Regions from separate parts of the Homo sapiens genome. Here all the other regions are linked to region 3. Evidence: fine-mapped expression QTL. A gene starts in region 3. Each other region holds a variant in brackets. All regions are shown on one strand. Distances are between the middles of the regions.

Evidence for each region.
Region 1: its variant is fine-mapped to the expression of EFR3A in whole blood (INTERVAL, PIP above 0.99).
Region 2: its variant is fine-mapped to the expression of EFR3A in whole blood (TOPMed, PIP 0.96).

The regions. Positions count from the first base shown.
Region 1 is chr8:132,003,045-132,008,044 of GRCh38, reverse strand. EFR3A (EFR3 homolog A) reads right to left here. Exons shown (of 23, transcript NM_015137.6): 22 at 4,760-4,809. Among named protein-coding and RNA genes, the nearest start is that of OC90, 54 kb to the left of the region's middle. The variant C/T (reference allele first, on the strand shown) is at 2,177.
Region 2 is chr8:131,993,826-131,998,825 of GRCh38, reverse strand. It overlaps EFR3A (EFR3 homolog A), which reads right to left. Exons shown (of 23, transcript NM_015137.6): 19 at 2,329-2,420. Among named protein-coding and RNA genes, the nearest start is that of OC90, 63 kb to the left of the region's middle. The variant G/A (reference allele first, on the strand shown) is at 2,343.
Region 3 is chr8:131,896,049-131,906,699 of GRCh38, reverse strand. It overlaps EFR3A (EFR3 homolog A), which reads right to left and starts at 2,607. Exons shown (of 23, transcript NM_015137.6): 1 at 2,378-2,607. The coding sequence starts at 2,387. RefSeq lists an enhancer at 1,611-1,660 and a silencer at 2,231-2,710.

The DNA of each region.
Region 1 (5,000 bases), 100 kb before region 3:
TTTTGCTCATTTTAAGACTGAGAGGACTCTTTCCTATGTTTTCTTTTAGAAATTTTGATTTTAGCTTTTACATAGACATTGATTACCCAACTTAATAATTAATGTTTGTGTTTGGTGGAAGGTAGGGATTGAGATTAGTATTTTTCTTTTAGCTTATCTAGTTGTTCCAGGACATTTGTTGAAAATATTTTCTTTTCCTCATTAAATTGTTTTGATTCCTTTATCAAAAATCACTTAAGTTTTTGATAGGACTCTCCATTCTGTTATCTTGATCTCTTTGTGTACTCTTATACCAATAATGTCTTGACTACTCTGGCTTTATAAATCAAGTATTGAAATTAGGCAGTGTAAATTCTTCAACTTTATTTTTCCTTTTCAAAACTGTTTAGCTACTCCAGGTCCTTTGTACTTTCATCTGAATTTTAAAATCAATTTATACGTTTTTACAAAAAAGTCTGTTGGGGTTTTGATTGGGATTTTATTGAAGCTACAGATCAACTTGAAAGAAACAGCATATAAACAATATTTAATCCTTCAGTCCATGAACATGGTATATCTCTCCTTTGTTTAGGTGTTAATTTCTCTCATTCATGTTTTATATTCATAACAGAAATCTTACATACTGTTAAATTATGGCTAATTTTTTTAATGCTATGTTTAAAAATTTACTCTTGCAATTGTTTGTTGTTAATATATAGATATACAACTGAATTTTGAATACTGACCTTGAATACCCTGAATCCTGTGACCTTACTAAAATTCATTTAATTCATGTATTAACTCTAGTAGGGTTTTTTTTCTTGATTACTTACGATTTTCCACATACACAACCATGTCATCTGTGAAAAGATAGTTTTATTTCTTCCTTTCTCATCTTTATATTTTTCCTTTTTTCACTTTACTTACCTAAGACTTTCAATACAATGTTGACATGGTGAGAGTAGACATCCTTGACCCAGTTTTAGGTGAAAGGCATCAGACTTTCACCATTATACATAACATCAGCAATAGATTTTTTTATAATTACTCTTTATCAGATTAAGTTCCCTTCTATTCCAAATTTTCTGATAATTTTTGTCTTAAATGAACATTGAGCTTTTTCAAATGCTTTTTTTCCTACTGGTGTGATCATGCAACTTTGCTTTCTTACTATGTTAATGTGGTGAATTTTGCTGACTGATCAATTTTCTAATGTAAAACTGATCTTGCTTTCCTCATAGTAACCCCATTTATTTAGGCCATATCATCAGTTTTATACATTTGCTAACATTTTGATAAAGATTTCTGTGACTATATTCAGGAGGGGTACTTGTCTATAATTTCATTTTTCTTAAAATATCCTTGTCTCATTTAAGTGTTGAAGTTATACTGGCCTCATGAGTTAGAAAATGTTTCTACCTCCTTTGTTTCCTGAATATGTATGAAACTGGTATTATTTCTTACCTAAATGTATGATAAAAGTAAGCAGTGAAGTTAAATGCATTTTCTTGTAGGATGCTTTTAAACTGCAAATCTATTTCAACAGTTATAGGGTTATTTGGATGTTTTACTACTTTTTGTGTCAATTTTAGTTAGTTTTGACTTTCAATAATTTTTGCTCATTTCATCTAAAGTGTTGAATTTATTGTCATAAAATTGTGTATAACATTCCTTTATTATCTATAATTCTTTTTTATTTGTAATATTGGTAATCTGTGTTTTCTCTCTTTTTCTTCCTTAACACTGACCAGAGGTTTACCAATTTTATCAACCATTTCAAAGAACAAACTTTTAGGTTTGTTAATATTTTCTATTGTTTGCCTATTTTCTGTTTCATTGACTTCTGATATACTTAGTTTAGCTTATGTTGTTCTTCTTTCTCTAATGTCTCACCAAAAGTCATTAATTCACTGCTTTCAGATCTCTCTTCTTTGCAAGCAAAAGCATCTAAAGATATAAAATTGCTCCTGAGCACGATTTTAGTTTCATCTTACAAAACTTTGATAGGTATTTTCAGTTTAAAATGTTTTCTAATTCGTCCTGTCATTTCTTCTTTGAGGTATGGGTGTCTTTTAATTTCCAGATATTTGAAATTTTTCTAGATATGTGTTAATGCATTATACTTTTTTTTGTGGCAAGAGAACATACTCAATATGATGTCTTAACATGTCAGTTTCCTGACATTTACTTACACTTG[C/T]TATAGTCCCACATCTGTCTATTTTGTGAATGTTGTATGTGCACTTCAAAAGAATCTATATTCTGTATTTGCCTAGCATTGTGTTTTCTAAAGGCCACTTAAATTGACTGAAATGGTTCAAATCTTATATCCTTTCTGCATTTTTGTCTTCTTGTTAGTTATGTTTTAGTACTCTTATGAGAGGAACATTAAAATTTGCAATTATAATGCAAAGAAACAGGAGACGATCGTGAGAATAAGCAATGTCACACACATTTCTCTCCAAACTATATGTATCTTGTCCTTTAAATTCTTTGACGTGTGTGTGTGGGGCCTGGGTGGGGGGTGTGGGTGTGTGGTGTTCTAAGGGCCTTTTCTACTAATTCCAATAACTGGGTTATCTGTGAGGCTGCTTATTCTCACTGTATTTTACTGCTTCTTTGCCTTTCTTGTTTTTTTTTTTAACCATACTCAGGTATGGTTAAAATGTAAATGAAAGAACAGTGGGAGCGAAGTATAATATTGTGTTGTTCTGTTTCTTTTATGGAGGATACAAACTCTTTCCACTGTCTGATGGTTAGGGTGAGGCAAATTAACAAGAGAAAATGTACCAGACAGGACCTGAAAACTCTGAAGACACATTTCTATAAAGTCTATTTAGTTTCTCCATAAGCTATTCCAGAGCTACTGCTTCCTAAATAGGTGACCCTGTATAAGTTACCTAACTTCCATGTATGTCTGTTTACAAACATGTAAAATGAGAATAATCACTATCTGTTTGTTAGAGTCTGTTGCAGATATTAAATAAAATAATACATTTAGCACAGTGCTTAGAACAACATAGGTGTTTAAAAATGTTAATTATTAGTAGTAACTGTTCAATGAATGTAAGTATTAGTAGTAGTTGTGGTACCAATGAAACAGAATTAGTTATAATACTTATTCTAAAATATTAAATTCATATAGTTATGTTAGTTTGACTAAATGTGATATGGTGATCTCTAGCAACATTCCTTTTAAGAACATCAGTTATGGATTTGAATTTTGACTTTGCCACTCATTAGCTGTATGCCCTTCAGCAAATTATTTTACTTTTCTCTAAGCCTTGGTGTCTTCACCTGAAAAATCAAAAAAATAGTGTCTACCTACCTTTCAGGGCTATGGTGAGGATTAGCAGAAATAATAGATATAAACCATGTAGCATAAGATCAAGTACACAGTAGACATTTACTATTAAATGTTTGACATTTAGTCATCAAAGAAGTAAATGCCCACACCCAGCAATTTTAATTGAATCCTAAGTCTAGCACAACAGTCGCCGACCTTTTTGGCACCAGGGACCAGTTTTGTGGAAGACAGTTTTTCCAAGGATGGGGACTGGGGGGATGATTTCAGGATGAAATTGATCCACCTCAGATCATCAGGCATTAGATTCCCATAAGGCGCATGCAACCTAGATCCCTTGCATGAGCAGTTCACAATAGGGTTCCTGCTCCTATGAGAATCTAATGCCGCGCTGATCTGACAGGAAGCGGAGCTCAGACAATAATGTTCACTTGCCCACTGCTCACCTCCTGCTGTGGAGCCTGGTTCCTAATAGGCCATGGGCCAGTACAGGTCTCTGGACTGAGGGTTGGGGACCCCTTGTCTAGCACATATTGAATATTTTAGTCTGATTTTCTGTTCTTAAATTTTGTAAATGAGTGATTCTCAACTTAAGAGAGTATAGCAGGAATGGGAGGGAAATGTCTAGAGTAAGATATATAATGACAAAAATGTGCCTTGCTTATGAAAGCAGAAAAAAGACTGAAACAAAAAAGCAAGTGGCCTAGAGCATTTACCTGTCTCTAATATTAATATAATACAGGGTTGAAGAAAAACAGACTTAATTAATCAAGTTAAAAATATGAAAGATATGCCAGATATAGAAAAAATTTCCAGAAGCATAGACATCTCTACTGGCCACCTCTCACAAAGGCAGGTTTCCACACTGAAGTCAATGTAAGACTATGTGGAAGTTCCTTCTTTAGATGGAACCTAGAGTTTGCCTCTCCTTCCTTCAGGTGCTACATTTCTTATTAATGTATAGACATAGGATAATCAAAGAGCATAATAATTCACAACAGAACTCAAATGAATATGATGTACAAAAACTAAAGGAAAGTTCAATAATTCAAATGAGCTATCTGCATAAGTAGACTTATTACTGCCCTGAAAAGAACCATGAGGCTGACATATTAAAATGCAGTTTCTGCAGGACAAAACGATTCAATATGAGCAATTTCCTAATTAAGCATAATATTAGAATATGGGTCTTTTTTAAATTACCCAGATGTACTTAAGAGATCATCAGGAAGGAATGAATAATCTAAAAAAGAAGCTAAAAAGCTAGAGGACAACTAGTCAAGAAAGGGTATCAGACTCTGCCTAAAAAACAGAATCACTATTAAGCAAAGGATCACCTATATGATCTTATGTTAATCCTAAATGAAAAGCATTACTTTAACATGATAACTTAAACATAATGAACCACAAATTCATAGGGGTCTGTCAGTTTCTATTCGTGTGTGTGTGTTATTGCTATTGTGATAACAAAACCCTTACCGTATGGTGAGTTCCAATATTTGGGCAAGTCTATCATGAAGCAAATTTGCCTGCAAAAAAGAAAAAAATGTTAAGAATGGTTTATTTTCTAGGTATCTATATATAATAATATCAATGTAACTTAAGAGACAAAGTATAATTGTGACTATTAAGCTGATTAATTATTAAGTACACAATGCTTTAAAGTTTTGGTTTGATCTGTCTTATCTATTAGAATTTAATGTAAGGGTTGTCTTTTTTT
Region 2 (5,000 bases), 95 kb before region 3:
AAAGTCAACCACCAATTTATACTCTCTAAAAATACCTTTTACCTTGAGTCTCTCAAATCTCCCTCTTGCTTTGAGATATGTAAAAGGTATAAAATCAACTGCTTTATGATAAAAATATCAATAATACATTTTATGGCATCAGCACATTTTTAGAAGAAATAATGCATTATTTAGAAGAAATAATAATATACATCTTTTTATATATGGCAACTTTTAGAAAAAGTTCACCAAATGATTCTCAGTAGGCCAAGGTTGGAATTGCAAATGTCAGAACTGGCAGATCTCAAGTGGATCAGGTATTTCAATAGACTAGAGTAACAATTTGAGTTTAGGGAAACAGAAGTTTGTTATGGTCTCCATCTAAACAACCTTCTGACTCTCTCTCTTTTTTTTTAAATTATAAGTTTAAAAAGCAAAAGCAAATACATCTCAGGATAAACTAGGATTATACATATAAAACTATAAATAATTTTGATCAAACAAAAAAGTTATTTTTTATGAGCAATGTTCTTATCTGATTCATTTTAAGAAAATAGTTTGATATTCTGCTGCACCATTAACTGGTAAAATATCTATCTGATGTGAATTTCTCCTGTCCATTATATGAAAGTAATTAATTAGTTTTAGCCTAGAAGATAGTATTATTCTGTCTTCTGGTATTTGAACAAACATCTCTAATATCCAAAAGCAGATTCCACAATGGTAAATGAATCTGAAACTCAAATGTGCTCAAGCAAATGTGACACTAAACTGTACTTAACTTTTCAGATGCTTGGTGTGAGGCATATTTGACTTAGGACTTATAGTAAATGAAAAACAACAGGATCTTGTAAAAGTTAATAAAAATATTAACAGACTTTTAATGTAAGATTTGTGTCAAGAATCTTTCCCCTACATTGAGTCTTTATGCAAATGTTTTTTCAGTTGATTTTATCAAAATAGACTGACTCTTTCCAACAGTTTCAAGTGTTCTCTATATATTTTTGAAAGAAGTAAGAATAGTTAACAAAAGGAGAAAGGTGAAAATACCAGTCAATAACACATAGTGTCCCCTTAACAAAATTAAGTTTATAATCTAAGACTCTGGATGAATTTCTTCCCTAGAAAGGTAATAGTGGCAAATTCATAATCATTAAAAGACAGAACTAGCAAGATACTCTTCTTACTGGTAAGGAGTGTATAAATTAAATAGCTCTGAAGAAAGAGGTGAATTTGGGAAAAGTTGTTATTAAGCCTTAAACTGGTAAGAAACTTTAGACTTAATGCGTTGAGTTTCAAAATGAACACTAAGTGCTTCTTCAACTACTCTTGATGCCGTGCTGATAAGTTCTTAATAAAACATAACTTCTATGTAATGGGAAGTTGAATGGCATAGAAAACATAAGTCAGTTGGCTGTACTCTGGCCACCAAATAGGTTTAGTACCTGAAGACAAATAAATCAATAGGAATTGTAAGGGGGTAGGAGGGAGGCTTGAGAAAGCATAATTCAGCTAACTTCCTTTCCCTTTCCCTATATGGATATTCTTTTAATTATGCATATTGTACCAATGAGAAATAATAAAATACTTAGGAAGGCAAACAATGGATAAACCACAAGGTGGAGGTTGACTTGACATGCTGGCATTTTGGCATTTTTACTTGACTATGAAAAAATTCTCTGGTGATTTGTGTAGAATAAGTCCTAGAGAATACTGGCTGCTTTTTCCCCTATAAGTCAGGAGGGTACACTCTTGTGCTTTTTTGAAACGGGAGGAGAGCATGAAATCTATGATGTTTTAAATAAGCCACAGTCCTTACAGAGTACATAGTTCACTGACACAGCTTAAACAACATCCTTACTATCCAAAATAATTAAAACATTTTCCCTTATAGATGCAGTTTTAAAACTTTTCAAAGGTAGTCAGCATTTGGCTTCACATGAGGATGTATAGTTCTATTTATTTCTGTAATTTGCATTTCCTAAATTTTTAAAAATAAGTAGGACCTAGAGGGCCCACTAATTTAATGACAGGCTTTGTATAAAGTTTCTTAGCAAAAAAATCTTATACTTTACAGTTCCTTTTATTACACTAAATTATAATGTGAAATCTGACATCATAACATATAATGTTAGGTTTATATATCTTTACAGACAGCTGAAATGAGTTCAGTAAAATAAATTATAAATAAATTCAAAGCTAAATCAGATTAATTTCTACTAATAATTTAGTTGATTTGAGGATAATTTAGAGTTGTATTTCCTCCTGTTCGAAAGTGTGGAAGGCAAAAAATTCTTTTAAATGATGTCTACCAAGACAGTACTCTACCATAAACTTTCAGTAACTTACCACATCATCAGAAG[G/A]AACATTGTTGGATAAAATATCCACCTGAATGGATACGGTGTCCACAATGCTTTTTCTTCTAGAAAGTCGATCTTCATCTAAAATAAAATTGTTTTCTTCCCATTATTTGCTAGAAATGTTATGTTGGTTTTCATTTATAAACTCTACTTATTTCAGATTTCAAAAACTGTCAAAAAATTCAGACAGTTTGTCTTTTTTGTTCCTTCTAAATACATAAAAGCAGCGTGTTCTCGGACTTTTACATTTCGTGAAGCAGATTAAAAAGTAAAATTGATGAGGTGAACTGAAATAAGGTTATCGGATTTTTATTTTTCAAAAAGGGGCATTTAGGACAGCAACATCAACAACCACTACCAAATAGTTTAATTAAAAAAAGCAAGTCAATGTAACAGCAAATGAAGGAAGTACATAATCTAAACTTAATACATTTAGCCTAAATGAAAACTGACAATATTGCCCTTATATCTCTAATATTTTCACGAAACAGTGAAAGCTGTCAGCTAACTCTGGTTCTAGGATGACAGTTTGGGAAGCAATGTCTAAAGGTGTTTACAGTGCATTACAATTTGTGGGCTGAAAGAATTTGCTGTTTCAATTAATATCTCCTCCAGCATTGTCCATTCAGTCATCTCCATCAGCTGTTGTTATTTTGCTTTATAATTTGACCACTTCTCCAGAAAGATGTTGTCTTTACCTGAGTGCTCTAGCTAATCTACTTTTGTGCCCCCAATTCATTTGTACAGTCTGAACAAATTGCTCTGATTTTTCACTACTGACTATGCTGAAGTCCTGTAATTATAATCCCAACCCCAACCACTCTTCTGACAGCGCTTTTAAATAAAATTCCACGGTCTTCCAAATCACTAAATTCAAAAGCTATTCCTAGCCCATTTTCTGCTTAACCACTTCATGAACATTTGAATTTGTTGATCATAATGTCCTTACATACCTTCTTTTCTACTTCTGTTTTTCTACTTTAGCATTCAATACTCAACAAATCTAGGAAGTGATTAGAGACCCTGTTAGGTGTTAGGGACAGTCTGCTGAATAGACATTACACATCCCGTGCAGCTTACAGTTTAACAGGAAAAATATACAATAAAATCACACAAATTATTAAAGTGTGATGAAAGTACAGGATGGTAGGAAAATATCAAATAATCATGATTACAGTCGAAAAAAGGAAGTCACTTTGTGTATTCTAACATATAGAATTAGAGGCTGATTCAACCCTTGGAAAGCTGAGTGAGTAAAAGTTAGGCTAGCCATCGGATAGTCTCAGTCTGCAGCATGGAGATGGTAATTCTCAAGAAGCTCTGGAAGCTTCTAGTCTGATCTCCACCCATTTGAATGCTACACTGTCTTTCAAAGATAATAGTTTTTCCTCTTCTACTTGCAAATTTTTCTGAGTGCTTTTCATTGTCAGTCTCTGATTCTGAAAAAACATAGTTCCAATTTTTCCTTTATGATACAGAAGAGAATTCAGAAAGGGTGACAATGATGCCAAGCTGGCTACTGTTCTACTCCCAGTCCTAAAAAGAATGTACTCACCCAGGTCACATCCCAGGACTTCTAACTCTCTCAAAGAGTTCCCAGGTACTATTAGGGTTGCAGCTGGCACCTAGTAAGTACTCCATAAATACTTGTGTGACTGAGCAGGATTCCGGCACCTCCTTTTCTGAGTTCAACATTTCCAGTTTCTTATTAATCAATTCTATTTGACATGTTCTAAATCCAATTCCGCATCTCTAAATAAGCCATCTTTATCTCCACATTGTCCTATTTATTTTCAAGAGTGTCATCGTTCAAAATCTTCATCTTTTCTTACCTAAACTCTTAGTATAGCTTTCAAGTGGGTCTTCTAGTATGTTTCTCCCTTCTATACTACCAATAGAGTTTTCTAAAACAGATCATTTTCAGTCCTAATTATAATTGTTAAACAAATGCAGCCCACTGCTTAATGCAGAGTTCCCAAGGTTTTCTACCTCACTGCACACATTAAATTATAATGCATGCATGGTACACAGAGATAAATGGAAGGGCCTGCTCATATTGCAGGCTCAGACTGCCCCAGGCCCTCTCCAGCTACCTGAAGAGCTAAGGAGAACAGTACCCAGACACACCTATAATGTTCCCCCAAAACAGTAGGGAAGCTCAGGTCTAGAATCAGTGTAACAGCAGAGTTACTGTATCATGTGGCAACACTTCATCTTTCTCTCTCTTTTTTTTTTTTCTTCCTGAGACAGTGTCTCTTCTCTGTCACCCTGGCTGGAGTACAGTGGTGTGATCAGAGCTCACTGCAGCCTCAAACTCTTGGGCTCACGTGATTCTCCCATTTTAGCCTCCCGAGTAGTCAGGACTACAGGCATGTGCCACCGTGCCCAGTTAATTTTTTTTAACTTTTAAGTTCAGGGGTACATGCGCAGGTTTGTTATACACATAAATTTGTGTCATGGGGGTTTGTTGTACAGATTATTTCATCACCCACATATTAAGTCTAGTATCCATTAGTTGTTTTCTGGATGCTCTCCTTTCTCCCACCCTCCACCCTCCAACAGGTCCCAGTGTGCATTGTTCCCCTCTATGTGTCTGTGTGTTCTCATCATTCAGCTCCCACTTACAAGTGAGAACATGTGGTATTTGGTTTTCTGTTACTG
Region 3 (10,651 bases):
GTGGTTGCTTTCTCAAAGAGTCTACGGATCTCCAAAATAATTCTAGTGAAGTGGCTGTTAATATTCATGAGATATATCATTGCTTAACCAGTGGGGTTACTGCATGCTTCACTGGATTCTAGTTATTAACAACAGTTTCAATGAGTACCAATATTCCAAATAAGCAACAAAATAGCAAGAGTAGAATAATTCTATGACTTACAGCAAGGGTTGCTCTCGGAATTGTAGAGTCTGAGAGACCACAGTGATCACCTCCAACCCTTTGATTTTAATTAAAACTCGTACGGATTAACTGGCTTGGGCTTATCACTAAGCCTCTCAACCATTTAACATTAAAACAACCAATCAAACAAAAACACTTAGCTTATCTGAGCACAGTTTTCCTCCTAAGAGCTGTGAACTTCCTCCTAAATTCCTACAGAGAATAACAATTTTGCCATCTCTGTGTTGGATATATATTCTACAAACAGAATTTCAAAGAAATATTGTTGTCCACTGCACTATCCCAGCAATTTCGGCAGCTGTGACTGCCAAAGGAGAGAAAAGGCAAATATGAACACTATTCACCTCACACTGGTACCCCCAATCAATCCACAGCACATTTTTATTCAGTCATAAAAAATGTACCATGACAAATATTAACAATGACAGATAAAACAAACATTTCACTTGTCTTCCAGTCAGGGTGTGAAATCTGCATTCTTAACTATGTAAACTCCACCATGGCCCATCCTAAAATCATTTTGCAGAATGAACTCAACATTTGAAAAGAAACGAGTTTACTATATCCACTCTGTGAAGCTAGATAACCCTAGAACATAACTAAAAATTTTATTTCACAGGATAATTCTGGCATGTTACCAATAAATTCTACTTGAAGCCTCAACTTTCAATAGGTGCTTACCTCCTCCCCTTTGGTTTCTCAGAAAATAAAAGATTAGCATAGTGCTAGTCTCAGATATTCACTGAATAACGTGAACATGAATTTAGAAGTACTAAACTGGCAATAACAATGAAGATGATTGTAAATGATATTCCTCCAGCCAAAAGGAATAAAACAGAAATTTAAACTGGACATATTTACTGGATGCGAAGTCCAAGAACGTGAGTTAAGGACACACAGTAGTGTGTGAAGAAAACAAAATCCACAGTACCCACACATGTATGAGGAGTTAAAAGTAATCTCTACATCAGGACTATGTAAAGATTTGCCACAGGAAAATCTTTAAATCTCAAAAAGATATTTAAATATCTTTAATATCAATTTAAATTTAATATCCTTAAATATCAGGAAAATATCAATCTTTATAATATCAAGAAATAACTCATCTTTTCCCACCACTAGACGAAACGTGCATTGGAGACTGACCTGGAAATTCAGCGTCCCAGATGGCTACAAAACAAGGACAACTAGAAGTAGTTATGAATTCTAGGAAATATATTCACAAGTGTGTAAAGATTCTATAGTATTGAACACTTAGTCAAAGGAGTCCTACTTGAATTCTCAAATCAATGACAAAGTTGCTTCCTCTCTACCCAAGATCAGGAGCTTCCCTAGTTTGCACATATCCACATTGACCAGTGGCTATAAAGTCACACTGCGATTATCTGGGTCATTTTAAAATAGGTCATTAGCAGTACTTGTAGTATCGCGTCTGTCTAAAAATCCTCCAACACCGAGTGACTTTTAAACTTTGGGGTGCCTTGGTAACCCCAGGGACGCTTATTAGACATGCAGACTCCGGGGCCCAAGCTCCAGACTAATTCCATGGGAATAGGGCGGGTCCCGAAACCGGCATTTTTAATCATCTGCCCGGGTGAATCCGAAGTGTGGTCCAAAAGCCACAGTCGAGGTGCCTCTGCCTAACAAGCTCCACAGAAAGCTCCGACTTCAGCCGCCCCGACGGCGATACGGACGCCGAGTTAGGCTGTCGGGGGTCTGTCTGGCGGCCGCGGGAAGGGACTCGGGGCCGGCGCGTCCACTAGCGACGTCCGGCCCGAGGTGAGAAGGGACTGACAATGGTACCGCAGTTATTTTCAATATTTCCATAAAGTCCCACGAAGCCGTGTGGCCGTGGGAAAAGGGCTTTAACTTTGAAATCCCACGGGTCAGGTTACCACCAGCTCTGCCGCCTCCTAACAGCGCGTCCCCGCAGTTCCCTTAACGTTCGGGCCTCAGTTTCCCGATCCGTGCAACGGGCTCACGCCATCTCCGGAAGGCTAAGCCGAAACGAAACTAACTCCGCCGCTCGCAGACACTTCCTGGCTCTGCTCAGCGCGGCCCAGCCTCCCCAGCCGCCCGGGAGGAGTACCCGGCCCAAGCGCGTCGCGCAGGCAGTCGCCTCCCAACGCCCCCGGCCCTCGGCCGGCCACTCACGGGTAGGCATGGCGATCTCGACCGCGCTCGCCGCCGCACCGAGGCTCAGCGGGGCCGCGCAGGGAGCGCCGACGGCACCATGACGGCCGTTGCTGGGCCGCGGAGGCCGGAACGAGGCGAAGGGCGAAGGGCGAAGGGTGGAGGGAGCGGACGCGGACCCCGCGGTCACGCAACCAAGCGGGCGACAGCTACCGCCGCCAGCCCACTCCTCGCCGGGCGGCGCGACGGACGACCCACGCCCGTTACGTCAGCGCGCCGCCGCCGTCCCGGCCCCGCCCCCGCGGATGGCCGGGCTCGGCCCAGGATCCCTTGTCGAGCGGGTGGAATGGGTGGCTGGGGACAGCCACGTAGAACAACTTCGGGTGCCTTCTATTTTCCAAGCCTGGTGACCTGCGTGGCATTCGTTTTCCTTGATCTCTATTTGGAGTGCATCACTTTACGTTTGTGAGGATGATGGCTTTGAGCGCACGGAGTACCTGTGGGCTTTTTCTTTTGCAATCGGTTTAACTTGCAGTGCGTTTTGCATACTCTGAAAGCATGGTTTATTTGAGATGCACTAAGGTCATTTGGGGTGATGGCTGCTCATTTTTTGAGAGGGCAGAAAATGTAATTTCCTTTTGCTCTTGTGACTTTCAGAGCGACCTTATCCCTCAGGAGTTAGTCTCCTCTGGAGAGGGCAGCTCTGTGCACTTGGCTGAGCTACTCTTCTTGACTCTGGGTGTCATTAATAATTGAGGTATCTAATAGTCACCAAGCTGAGCAGACACCGGGAGCCAGAGAGCTGAGCAACGCACCTACACTATGCTAGGCGCCGTGGGCTGCGGACAGCCCATATGGAGATATAAAAGCCAACCGCAGAGGTTTAACACAGCCTTCCTCAAAGTGGGTCAAAGTGGTCCAGGATCCTTTTGTGCTTGGATCCCCTGGGGACTTGTTGAAAAGCAGATTCCTAGGTGCTGAGCCAAATCTACGAACACATATACAGATGATTTAAATACAATGATAATACTGAGAACCTTTGTCCTAAAAAGTAGGGCTAACCTTCTGATTAAGAAATGATATTGTGCAGTACTGGGAGGAGAAGATGAAGAACATGAAGATCAGAGCTAGGAAGCGCTGAGGAGAAATTAGTCTTGGCTTGAGGTGGACTTGGAAGAAAGCAGAATTTGAATTAGCAAAGCCTAGGGGAGTCCTAAAAGAGGCTGGGGAGAGGATGAAGGGTAATTTAGAGTGAGTCATGGCAGCTGGGGAGAGGAGAGTGTGTACTGTACCTATAAAAGAGACTGTCCAGCTGGGAACGGTGGCTCACGCCTGTAATCCTAACACTTTGGGAGACCGAGGTGGGCGGTGGGCAGATCACCTGAGGTCAGGAGTTCGAGATCAGCCTGGCCAACATGGCGAAACCCTGTCTGTACTGAAAATGCAAAAATTAGGCGGGGGTGGTGGCACATGCCTATATTCTCACTCAGCTACTTGGGAAGCTGAGGAAGGAGAATCGCTTGAACCCAGGAGACGGAGTTTGCAGTGAGCCGAGATCGGGCCACTGGACTCTAGCCTGGGCTACAGAGCAAGACTCCATCTCAAAAAAAAAAAAAAAAAAAGAGAGACTGTCCCTTGCTAACAGTAAAGACCAAACTACCTAGTGCTTATTCATGTTTTAATGCCCTGTTGCATATTTTATCACCTATAAAATCTTTCATGCTTCCAGTTTTCTCCCTAAGACTTTGGCATTATCTTGATTCCTCTCTGCTACAGCACTTTTCTCACTGCATCCTAAATAAACTGTCATGAGTGCTTGTGTTTTACCATGGGCCTATTTGCTTTTCAGAAAATGGCAAAAGCCATATTCTGTTCATGTTTATGTATCCTTGGCTGGCACACAGGTGGGGGCCAGAGTATATTAATTCAATATATAAATAAAGGATTTTATTCAAGAGTATGAAAACAAAAACAGGTAAATAAAACTGATAAACAACTTTACATTCAACCTTGGAATTTGTCTTTTAAGAAACTGTTCTGTGATTTTTACAAAAAGCATAACAGTAACATTAAATTATCAGAAGCAGGGCCTTGCAGGGGGAATGGTGTGGCAGAGAAACTGTGGAGGTAGGCAGCCAAATCGGAAGGCCCCAATACAGGAGAGAGTGTTAGGTGCTCAGTCTTGGTGGTGGCTGTGGAAAAAGAAAGAACTGAATCTTACTTTGGAAAAGAATCCCTGGATTTGTTGGCTGCTGACTTGGGAGCAATAGAGAGGCATCTGTTAGTTATGTAACTCCAAGGTTGGAACAAGGAAAGTGGTGGTGCTGGAGAGCAGTAGACCAGTCAGGAAGAAATGCTGTTTTAGGGAAGGGGTGTGAAGAAAGGTGTGAGTTTCTCCTTGACATATTGAGCTTGAGGTGGTATCAGAGGGAGACATCCGAGTGAATGAATCTGAAGGCAGCTGGGCAAGCCAGGATGAAGGTGGGCTGAGGGACCTCAGGGTGGGAGATTTGGAAATCTTTGGTCCCGGGACAGGAGCTGAAGCTGGGTGTCAAAGAGAGCCCTTTTAGGGAAGATGTGGAGGCAGTGAAGGCACAGAGAGACGAGATCCACAGGATACAGTGCCCCAGGAGCCAAGGGAAGACATGACTCCAAAAGGCAGACATCTCTGCTTACATTACCTTGAAAAAGATGCAGATCCCAAAGGCCCTGAAATTGTCCTGCACATACTGGTTGTTTTTTTGTTTGTTTGTTTTTCATTTCTTTCTGTTTTTAATCCTCTTGGTCTTTTGGTTTTGTATTGTTGCCAGAAATAAAAATCAGCAGCCAAAGATTCTGAGGAAGGACAGCTGAATGTCAGGAAAAATAGTGTCATAATGTTTTGATTATATATACAGTACCTACGTGGTTTTTTTTTTTTCCCTAGTTTGTGCACATTGGTAGCAATGTTACCATACTCTTTCCCTAACCTATCCTCTGGATCCGAGTTCTGCCGGTGTATCCACCACAGCCAGCCCCCGCTTCCTTTTTGATTTTTTTTTTTTTTTTTGAGACAGAGTTTCACTCTGTCGCCTAGGCTGGAGTGCAGTGGTGCAATCTCACCTCACTGCAGCCTCCACCTCCTGGGTTCAAACAATTCTCCTAACTCAGCCTCCCAAGTAACTGGAACTACAGGTGCATGCCACCACGCCTGGCTAATTTTTGTAATTTTAGTAGAGACGGGGTTTTGTCATGTTGGCCAGGCTGGTCTCAAACTCCCAGCCTCAAGTGATCTGCCTGTCTCGGCCTCTCAAAGTGCTGGGATGACAGGTGTGAGCCACCACGCCCGGCCCCCTACCCCCTACTTCTGAGAGCAGAGAGTCTGCCGTCATCTTTGGTACTTGGTCTTACCCCTCTTGGTGTATCCCCTTTTGCAAACACCCTTCCCCTTTCTATCCCCTCTGTGTCAGTGCTCCTCTCTTGGAGCCCAGTCTGGGCTGACAGGAACGAGGATTTAGCCATCTCTCTTGGTGCCCACACTGCCCAGCTCTTGTCCTGGACACTATGTGTGGTAGACATGGAGACGAGTCACCAGATCCCTTTAAGAGAAGACACACTGCCTTGGCATTTGAGCCACTTTAGTGTTTGAGCTTGGTATTTGAGGTGATGCTTTTGTCAGGGTGCAGGGCAGGCAGAGTGCCCTTTCTAACATGCAAATCTAATGATACCTCTGATATGGTTTGGATATTTGTTCCCTCCAAATCTCATATTGAAATTTGATCCCCCACATTGGAGGTGGGGCCTAGGTGGAAGGTGTTTGGGTGATGGGGGTGGATCCCTTATGAACAATTTGGTGCCTTCCTTAAGGTAATGAATAAGTTCTCTGTTGGTTCCTGCAGTATCTGATTGCTAAAAATTGTCTGGCACCTCCTTTCCCTCTCTCATGCCATGTGATGCCTCCTCCCTTCCCCTTCCACCATGAGTAGAAACTCCCTGAAACCCTCACCAGAAGCAGACACTGGCACCATGCTTCTTATACAGTCTGCAGAACTGTGGGCCAAATAAAGTTCTTTTCTTTATAAATTACCCAGCCTCAGGTATTCCTTTATAGGAATGGAAATGGACTATGACCTCTCACCTGCTAACACTTGTCTATGGCTCAGTAGAGTGTTCAGTCTACAGTTCAAAGCCCTTAGCTTAGCACAGGAAGCCTTTCAAGGCCTGACATTGAGAGCTCTTCAGTTCCCCTACATTGCAACTTACGCTTTGCTTCCCCTGGTCCTAATGAGTGCACAGTTCTCAGAAACCACTCTGCTGTAGCACTCTTCCATTCTTTTGCCCATGCTCTTTGCCCTGCTGGAATGGGCTTTTCTGTCCCCTGCTCTAGCTAACTTCCAAAGTCCTTGTGAGTGTTTGGTGTAATTAAGTATGCCCTATGACCTGGAGATCATCCTTCTGGGAATATATCCTGGAAAATTTCTCACCAGGGTCCACAAGGAAGATGGATAAAAAGGTTAATTGACGTGTTGTTCATGGCAATGCGGAGTTGGAGGCCACCTAGGCGTTTGTCACTTGCAGAACATGGTGGATTCATACGTACTGTGGATGCACATCAGCAACATGGCTTGATCTTAAAAATGCAGAATTGGCCAGGCTCAGTGGCTCACGCCTGTAATCCCAGCACTTTGGGAAGCCAAGGCGGGTGGATCACTGGAGCTCAGGAGTTCGAAACCAGCCTGGCCAACATGGTGAAACTCCGTCTCTACTAAAATAACAAAAATTAGCCAGACATGGTGGTGGATACCTGTAATCCCGGCTACTTGGGAGGCTGAGGCAGGAGAATCGCTTGAACCCAGGAGGCAGAAGTTGCAGTGAGCCAAGACCGTGCCACTGCACTCCAGCCTGGGCAACAAGAGTAAAACTCCGTCTCGAAAAAAAAAAAAATGCAGAATTAAGAAGCATCAATATTTATAGCACAGTACTATTTATGTCATTTTTTAAAAAACATGCACGTAGAAAACATGGATCTCAACAATGATATATAAGGAGGTGAAGGGAAAGGGAGTGAGAATAGGGAAATAAAATTAGCAAAAAAAGGGCTTTGAACAGAAAGACGACAGTGTACAATGAAAAAGGAATGTGATTGCTGCAGTCTTTGCAACTGATTTTTTTAAAAAAGAAACAAATTATTTTCAAATATCACTAAGTACAAAAAGACCTTCCAAGACTTCTAAGTTGGCTTTAAGGTGTTTCTTTCAAGTTCCAGAGCTAATTTGCATACCTCCATCCTGTCTCTGAAGGGCCCTAGTGCTTCTTGCGGTACATAGCAGATATTGGGGACTCCCAGTAACTGTGGTGGATCCTAAGGAGGGCTGCTGAGGCCTGCATGTGCAGGTGGGATAAAGAACCAAGGTAATGTGGGCATTAACTTGTCCTTATTTATACATATAGGCTGGTCAGGACTGGGACATTTGTTACCTCATTACCTATATATTAATCATTACTAATAGTACCTGTTTATTTTGTTTAAACTCTTCAAAAGCCAATGTTGAGTTCAAATCAAGAAAGACATTCACTAGCACTTAAATAGAAGAGTACTTTCTTTTTTATGTTTTCTGGCACATTTTCAGAATACATGCCATTAAAAATAGAAGTTCTTTGTCCCTTCTTTTATTCCTTCTCAGAAAATAAGAGGTCAAAATAATATTAGAAAGGTCGTTGTTGATATCCTATTAGAGCATTGGCTTTTAGCTCAAATTGTCCAAAATAGCTCTGTTTCCAGTTTAGTGTAGTATTTGTTCCAATTTCTAAATCCTGCACTGAGAGAATTCACTTTTAATTAGCATGCATTTTAGTGCTTCAAAGGTAATTGCCAGCAAATTTACAGTTTATAGGAAATAATTAATAAGGCTATAGATTCACTCCTCCTAAAAGCTTATTCCAAAAAAGTCATAATGATGCAATCTGATGCTCTCATTGCTTAGTTTTTTTCTCACAATACATATCAATAATATGCCCTTTTTTTCATTTCATTCCATTTCATTTTACCATTGATTAATCATAACTTAAGGCTTTCCAGTTCTTATGAGGCATAAAAAACACAGACTTTAGACACAGAAAACCTGAGTTTGGATTCTGCTTTCCCCACAAAGGAATTGGAAACACTTATGAAAACATACAAAAAAGATAAGTCTTGCTAAAGTAAATTAAGATGCAGACCAGGTCTAAAGAACCCCTGAGCAGATAAAACCAGTTAGGCCTTGTGAGTGAACTAAGCCTTGCTTGATTTGCAAATGTAAGTAAAACTTAACTTGAGCTATTTCTTGTAAATGCTGAAATTCAAGAAAAAACAGAACTTAAGCTCAACCAATCAGAAGTTATCAACAAATTTATATAACTAGGGACTTTCTAACAGAATAAACCAAGTATGGGGACTGTATAATTATAATCAATCAAATATTTTATTTGCTTTACTTCTATGTCCATCCTATAGAAACCTTCCCCTGGTGTTCCCTCCGAAGATTCATGCATCGCTATTTGTGCAAATAAACTCTTTAAAATTTTATTATGCCTCAGTTTACATTTTCTTCTTCTTCTTTTTTTTTTTTTGAGATGGAGTTTCGCTCTTGTTGCCCAGGCTGGAGTACAATGGCATGATCTGGGCTCACTGCAACCTCTCCCGGGTCTAAGCAATTATCCTGCCTCAGCCTCCCAATTAGCTGGGATTACAGGCATGTGCCACCACACCCAGCTAATCTTGTATTTTTAGTAGAGACCGGGTTTCAGCATGTTGGTCAGTCTGGTTTCGAACTCCTGACCTCAGGTGATCTGCCCGCCTCGGCCTCCCAAAGTACTAGGATTACAGGCATGAGCCACCACACCCAGCCAGCTTACCCTTTAACAGCCTCTAATCCAGAAGGTCATTGCCCAAACTTTTCGGTGCCAACTAGGACACTGTGCAAGGCAGACACTCCCGATCATGTCATGAGCCAAATGTCTCAGTCATCTCTGCTTTATAAAGAGAATTGCAAATGGGTGGAGCAAAATCTTGAGATAATCAGGTTAAGAGTTCTTGATTAAATCAGACAAAACAGCTGGAAACCCTTCCTTAGAAACACTATCATTTTAAACAATTAGAGGAAAGCATTAACTCTCATTGTTATTTACTAAAATGTTAGCTAGCTTTAGCATTTAACACAGAGTGTAGGGGAGCTGCTGAAAGGAGAGAAAAAAATCTTCTAAATATGGTCTCATGCTAGGCAGTGAGTTTTTTACAAGACTTTTATGACAATTGGTATCAAATCTTATTTATTGCTGTATCTCCTGCACATGAAATATTTTATTTAATAAATATTTGAGGAAGTGTGGGAATTGGAGGAAGAGAGGGAGGGAGGAAGGGGAAAAACATAAAGGGCAAGCATCACAGAGAGGTCAGTTGAAGTATTGAAAGGAGATCTTTGTGGTAGATTAGAAAAATCGCTTAGATTTTTTTTACCTCTGGCTATATCTACACTCTTGCAGTTGATTTGGGGATACCTCCCCCGAAGAGATAATTTTTTCCTCATCTCTGAGTCTGCATTGTCCTTGTAACTTGCTTTGACCAAAGAGGCAGTGACAAACATTATGTGAGCAGAGACTTAAAAAGGGTGAAGAAGCCCAAACTTTCTATTTGAAGAGAGAGGCGCCAATCCTCCTAATCATCCCAGATGAGGCCACCATATATCAGTCAGCCCCTGCTGGTCACCCAGCTAAACAAGAATTCAAAAGTCAGCCTAGCCAAAAGCCACATAAGCACCACCCAGCTGAGACCAGCCCAAATTGTCAACACACAGGAGCACGAGCTGAAGAAATAGCTGTTACTTTAAGCCACTAAGTTTGGGAGTGGTTAGTTATGTATCCCCTAATCACTATTACTAGTTTTCACTATAACTGTTGCTAATAATCAATAGCGTATACAAGTAATCATGGGTGGTATAATTTATCAAGCTTTTAGTACGTGCCAAATACCATGCTAAGTACCTTAAGTACATTTTCTGACATAATCCTCACAAAACTGAATGGATACGCTTAAGTATACCTGTTGTTTTAGTATGAGGAAACTGAAGCATGGAGAGATTAAATAGTTTCCCCAAAGTCACCCAAGTCAGTCATGACCCAGGAATTTGAAATCAGGCCTGTCTGCCCCCCGCAAACCCAAGATCTTCACCACAGACAGTATGCAAAGTCATCTGAAGAGCAAATTAGAAGGCCCAATAGGAGATGCATACCTACAACGGGTGGATTTAGAGGCAATTATTGTCTTTTTTCCAATCTGTT